2 separate regions of the Homo sapiens genome follow, and region 1 is linked to region 2. The links come from fine-mapping of genetic effects on gene expression. A gene starts in region 2. The other region holds a variant in brackets. All regions are shown on one strand. Distances are from middle to middle.

Evidence for each region. PIP is the estimated chance that this variant, and not a neighbour inherited with it, causes the effect.
Region 1: its variant is the best candidate, but not a certain one, in a credible set for the expression of GPN1 in cerebellum (GTEx, PIP 0.63).

What each region holds. Positions count from the first base shown.
Region 1 is chr2:27,711,392-27,714,296 of GRCh38, reverse strand. The region is part of intron 1 of LINC01460 (long intergenic non-protein coding RNA 1460); the gene reads left to right. Among named protein-coding and RNA genes, the nearest start is that of LINC01460, 2.9 kb to the left of the region's middle. The variant A/G (reference allele first, on the strand shown) is at 1,261.
Region 2 is chr2:27,627,634-27,630,538 of GRCh38, reverse strand. GPN1 (GPN-loop GTPase 1) reads right to left here and starts at 1,489. Exons shown (of 14, transcript NM_007266.4): 1 at 1,370-1,489; 2 at 587-680. The coding sequence starts at 1,480. CCDC121 (coiled-coil domain containing 121) reads left to right here and starts at 1,527. Exons shown (of 2, transcript NM_024584.5): 1 at 1,527-1,589; 2 at 2,622-2,905. The coding sequence starts at 2,740. RefSeq lists enhancers at 1,245-1,344, 1,385-1,694, 1,755-1,814 and a silencer at 2,263-2,557.

The DNA.
Region 1 (2,905 bases), 84 kb before region 2:
GCATCCAATAAAGTTTTGTGGTCGTTTTTATTTATTTATTTATTTATATTTATTTTGTTTATTTATTTATTTATTTTGAGACCGAAGTCTCACTCTGTTGCCCAGGCTGGAGGGCAGTGGCTTGATCCCGGCTCACTGCAAGCTCCGCCTCCCGGGTCCATGCCATTCTCCTGCCTCAGGCTTTGGAGTAGCTGGGACTACAAGCGCCCGCCACCACGCCTGGCTAATTTTTGTATTTTTAGTAGAAAAACGGGGTTTCACTGTGTTAGCCAGGATGGTCTCGATCTCCTGACTTTGTGATCCACCCACCTCGGCCTCCCAAAGTGCTGGGATTACAGGCGTGAGCCACCGTGCCCGGCCTGTGGTCATTTTTTAAACTAAAGATGGGTAAACTATGACTGGGCACAGTGGCTCACGCCTGTAATCCCAGCACTTTGGGAGGCCAAGGCGGGTGGATCACTTGAGGTCAGGAGTTCGAGAACAGCCTGGCCAACATGGTGAAACCCCGTCTCTACTAAAAATACAAAAATTAGCCAGGCGTGATGGAACATGCCTGTAATACCAGCTACTCAGGAGGCTGAGACACGAGAATTGCTTGAAGCCAGGAGATGGAGGTTGCAGTGAGCCAAGATGGCACAACTGCAGTCCAGCCTGGGTGACACAGCGAGACTTATCTCAAAAAAATAAATAAATAAAAAATAAAGATGGGTAAACTGAGTCCAAAATAAGGAAGTGATGTGAGATGAGCCATCCTATCTCCAGAATAATGAGTGAGCAGTCAAGAGCCCATCCCTAGGCAAATGCAGAGCAGCTAGCTTGGGAGTCAGCCTTGGAGGCCAGCCTGGTCTTCAGTCCACAGCCCCTTTTCCCACAGGTGTTAAAAAGGGTTCCACAGTCTCATCCACCCCACGGACTCCGTCCCTACCACCTGCAAATTCGCCTTCCTCCGTCTTTATTAGAGCTTCTATTTTCTCTGGCGTGCCCTCTGGTTACTGTCCTAATGCCTTCTGCCTGCCTTGGGAGATGTCTGCAGTTTTACTCCAGCTTGGTTCTCTTCCTGCCCCTCTGATTGCTCCTTCTCTAGTGCTGGCTCCTCTTCCTTTCCTGAGCTTTTTTTTTTTTTTTTTTTTTTTGTAAGATGGAGTCCTGCTCTGTCTCCCAGGCTGAAGAGCAGTGGCACAGCTCACTGCAGCCTCCACCTCCCATGTTCAAGTGATTCTCCTGCCCCTCAGCCTCCCAAGTAGCTGGGATTACAAGCAT[A/G]CACAACCACTCCCGGCTAATTTTTGTATTTTTAGTAGAGACGGGGTTTTGCCATGTTAGCCAGGCTGGTCTCGAACTCCTGACCTCAAGTGATCTGCCCGCCTTGGCCTCCCAAAGTGCTGGGATTACACGTGTGAGCCATCATGCCCAGCCCTGAGTTTTTTTTTTTCAAGGGTGCCTATTATCCAGTGTTTATCATGCTGCCCTCAGTTCCCTATTCCTGGCCTTCTGCCTCTGGGAGAGGGACCTCATTGCTTTTGGTGGTTCCAGTTGTCTCCTCTAGGTTACCAGCTCTGACCTCTTGACTCCCAGTCCCAATTTCAGCTGCCCATTGGACAACTCTAAACTTAAGCCCTGTTGTCATCTCAAACTCAACATATCTAAAAATGAGTTCCTCATCTTCCCACAAAGCAGCTTTCCCAGCTGGTTTCCCTTTTCTGTTTGGTACATGACCATTCTCACCCAGGCACAAAGCTTTCATCAACTTTGACTCTTCTCCTTTCCTCTTCTACCTGCATGTAGGCACCAAACCCTGTGCATGCCTCCCTTGGGGTCTTGCTCTGGTATCCAACTCTTCCTTCCTTTTCCCATCTGTAGTCATCTATTGCTAGCCCTCAGCTCCAACGTTCCCAGTAGCTTCGTGGCTGTTTTCTCTGCCCATAGTCTCTCCATCCTCTAAAATGGGTTGACATCTGAACCAAGACCCACCTCCATTAGAGACTTCCTTTGAACATAGACCCTTTGAGCAGCGTTAGCACATCTTGCCTGTTCCATTCACTCTGCCAATTCCTCCAATCTTGCCAAGTGACATGCCTCCTATGGTTATTTAACTTTTCACATTTTTTACCCAAATGAGAAGCTCCTAGAGGTCTTTCCCAGCCCCTGATCTGAGCTTGCTCAGGGCCAGCTGGGACCCCGGTGCTACAACCTGGCACTTAACACAAGTGCTTCTGATTCCTCATGGTCTCCACTATTTTTCAATCTGGCTCACTTGAGCTCTTTTAAATTAACCGAGGAGTGCCCTTCACCCAGAAGCAGAGAGCCCAAATTCCAATGCCTGCAGGGGCCAGGCAGGTCATGACATGGGTGAGGCAAGGCAGGTGCACAATGATAGGGAGTGGCAGGACGTGGCGTCTAGACCCCAGGTCCCCAGTCTAGAGCAGTTGTTACTACTTAGGCCCCCTTTATGGATATCAGGCCCGGTGTGTTCAGAGTTTCCAATTTTTTTTTTAAATAAATACCAAATTTGGATTTTAGATTAAATTTCTCAACTTCTAAAATACTGTGCAAACCAAACAAAATACTGCTGCAGGCTAAGTTCAGCCTGCAGGTAACCCTGGATATAAAGATTTCCTGCTTTGTAATAATTCTTAGGTGGCAGAAAGCAGTTTGGATTGGGAGTTTCTAGTTCTGGTTATACCAGTAATGAGCTAAATAATCTTCAATAAGTTATATCCTTTCTCTGGGACCTCAGTTTCCTCATCTGTACAATGAAGGATCCCATTAAATGATCCCCAAGGCCTTTTTTTTTTTAACTTGGTAATTCTGTGGTTCTGTGGCTTATTCTAAATGGTGGGGAAATCCTGTTTAATTGAATTTTCTGGTGAATGAGAATTACCATAAATACACACTGTATGTGGATTAC
Region 2 (2,905 bases):
ACAAAACTAGCCCAGCATAGCGGCAGGAGGCTGAGGTGGGAGGATCACTTGAGCCTGGGATGTTGAGGCTGCAGTGACCTGTGAATCACGCCACTGCACTCTGGCCTGGGTGACAGAGACTCTGTCTAAAAAAAAAAAAAAAAAAAAAAAAACCTAAGCTGTTTAGGAATGCAAGCAAATCCAAAGGAAATGAAAGTAGATAGTTTAGAAAACATGAAAAAAGAAGGCACTGAAGACTGGCAGGCTGGAGGCTTTACAGAGTCTCACTCTATTGACCAGGCTGGAGTGCAGTGGCACGATCTTGGCTCACTGCAACCTCTGCCACCCGGGTTCAAGCAACTCTCCTGCCTCAGCCTCCCGAGTAGCTGGAATTACAGGTGCCTGCCACCGTGCCTGGCTAATTTTTTGTATTTTTAGTAGAGATGGAGTTTCACCATCTTGGCCAGGCTGGTCTTGAACTCCTGACCTCGTGATCTACCTGCCTCGGCCTCCCAAAGTGCTGAGATTACAGCCGTGAGCCACCACGCCTGGCCTTTTCCATTCTCTTTAAAGCACTGCACACAAGTTATGTTACTGGTTTACTCACCAATATTGGCAGGAAAGGGAACTTCATGTACTGCTGGATCCAGGTTGATCACATACGGTGGAGTGCCTTGGGCATGCAGGTGTCCTGTGAGCCTCTGCAGAGATATGGGGAGAGGGTTGGAAGGAGACAAAGAGGGGACAAGAGAGAACTTCCATTCCTTTAACACCCATGCCTTAAGAATATTGCACTTAGATTTTCTTCTACCTGAAATATCCACCATGTCCACCTCCAAGATACAACTCTCAGTTCAAATGCTACCTTTCTTCATCACCCATCTAACAAAGCTTCCCCTACTCGTAGTCACTTGTTTACTTGTTTTGATTCTTCGTATGTGGGTTTTCTCTATCTCCTCCATTAAATATTTGGCCCCACGAATGAATCTTGTCAACCTCATTTTCGCTATATCCCCAGTGAATGGAACATGACAGGCGTGCAAGAAATATTTGGCAAATCTTCACCAAAACCTGTGTGCTAGCACTGTATTAATCTTTAAAGTTACTTGTAACTTGCCTCCGAGAAACGCAATTTTATCAGCAAGACAATTCCTGTACAACGTGGTAAGCTGGACCGAGTATGCCCTGAAGGTGCGCAGAAGAGAGCCTTAATTAACCTGGCTAGGGCCCGAGGAGGCTTTGCCGGGGAAGGAACTAAAGTTGATGGGAAGCCCCCGAAAGCCATGCGCCGGTACCCTCCAAATCCTCTTCCCTCCCTTTCTTCCTGGCCTTCCGCCTGCCGGAGGCAACCTTTTGCGCTCCCCTACTACACCCATGCTGTGTACGTCACCTGTACAAAAGTGGTTTTCCCGGATCCCGCCATTCCCAACACCAACAGACACACTGGGTGCCGCGGACCCCCAGAAGCCTGGAGCTCAGCGGCAGCTGCGGACGCCGCCATCTTCCTCCTGGCCCCACCCACCCGACCATAGAGACACCGCATGGGTAGAGAAACTTCCGCAATGTTCTGGGCTGCGAACGAAAACCACCACAGCGTCAGAAAGGAGCGGGTGAGGGGCGCGGCGGTTGCCAGGGCATCTTCTTAGCGTCGGGCAGGGCTGATGAGTCAACTAGTGACAGTGGCGAGGAAGTGGGGGCGCTGAGCAAGCGAGAGGAAGGCTGAAGGGAGCTAGGAAAAGGGCGCTGATCTCTGCAGCCTGGGAGGGCTTTTGTCTCCCGGAGGAAGGCCAGAAGAGATGGGGTCCCGAGGGCAGGGCTCACACAGCAAGAAAACGAGGAGCATGCCTGTCATTTTGAGCCCACAGAGAACGGGGAGCGGAGCCACTGGAGGACCGGCTGCTCGGGCTTATTCGGTAGCCGAGGCGGTTAAACAGTTCAGGGCTGGACCAGCCGGGACTGGAGCAGGGTGCAGTCTCCAGGGTTGCTGGGCAGCACCGAGACCCTTTGAGCACCGAACGAATAAACTACGGGAGCTTTCCACACTTGCACATTGTTCCCGCGAGTTGCAGACGCAGGTTCCTGATGCTAGCGCTCATTCCTTGGCAGTCACCCTCAGTGAACTACACAGTTGCCGTGACCTTCAGGATGAATGCTTGGATTCCAGGTGCAAGTAGGTACTGGAGGGGAGCTTCCTCCCCTCCAGTCACTGAAGGTCCCTCAGAAACTCAGGAAAGATGATGAAAGAGCCTAGAAAATTATTTCTACTCCTGACCACCCAGTCTGTTTCTGTGACCCTTTGTAGCTGCAAACAGTGTTCAGTAAGTCATAAGATCTGGCTTTAATACCCAGGCTCTGCCACTTGCTAGTGGTGTGAGTCATGGGCAAGTCACTTAAACTCTCTGAACCTGTTTTCTCCTTTTTTAAAACTGAGGTAATACCTCCCAGGGTTGTAGTGAATGCACGTTGTAAATGACGAGCTACATTCCTCATCCTTTACCACTAGCTGGATTCCCCACACCTTGCATAATGTCTGGAACATTCTGGTGCTCAGAAATATTCTCTTGTATGAATGAAGGACAGTTGTGCACTTACTTCCTAAAGTTTCATTAACTGACAGAGGAATGTCTCGTTTGTTCTTTCAGGTTTGCTGAGGGCCCCAGAAGGCTCCTTCCACCGTATCATAGTCTAATAAATAATTTTGTCAAGCCAGAGAAGCTAACAAAGGTAGAGACAAGGCTTAAAGAAAAGATAGTGGCGGAAATGACGGATCTGAACAAGCATATAAAACAAGCTCAAACCCAGCGGAAACAGCTACTGGAGGAATCCAGGGAGCTACACCGAGAAAAGTTACTTGTCCAGGCTGAAAACAGATTCTTTCTGGAATACCTGACTAACAAAACTGAAGAGTACACAGAGCAACCTGAGA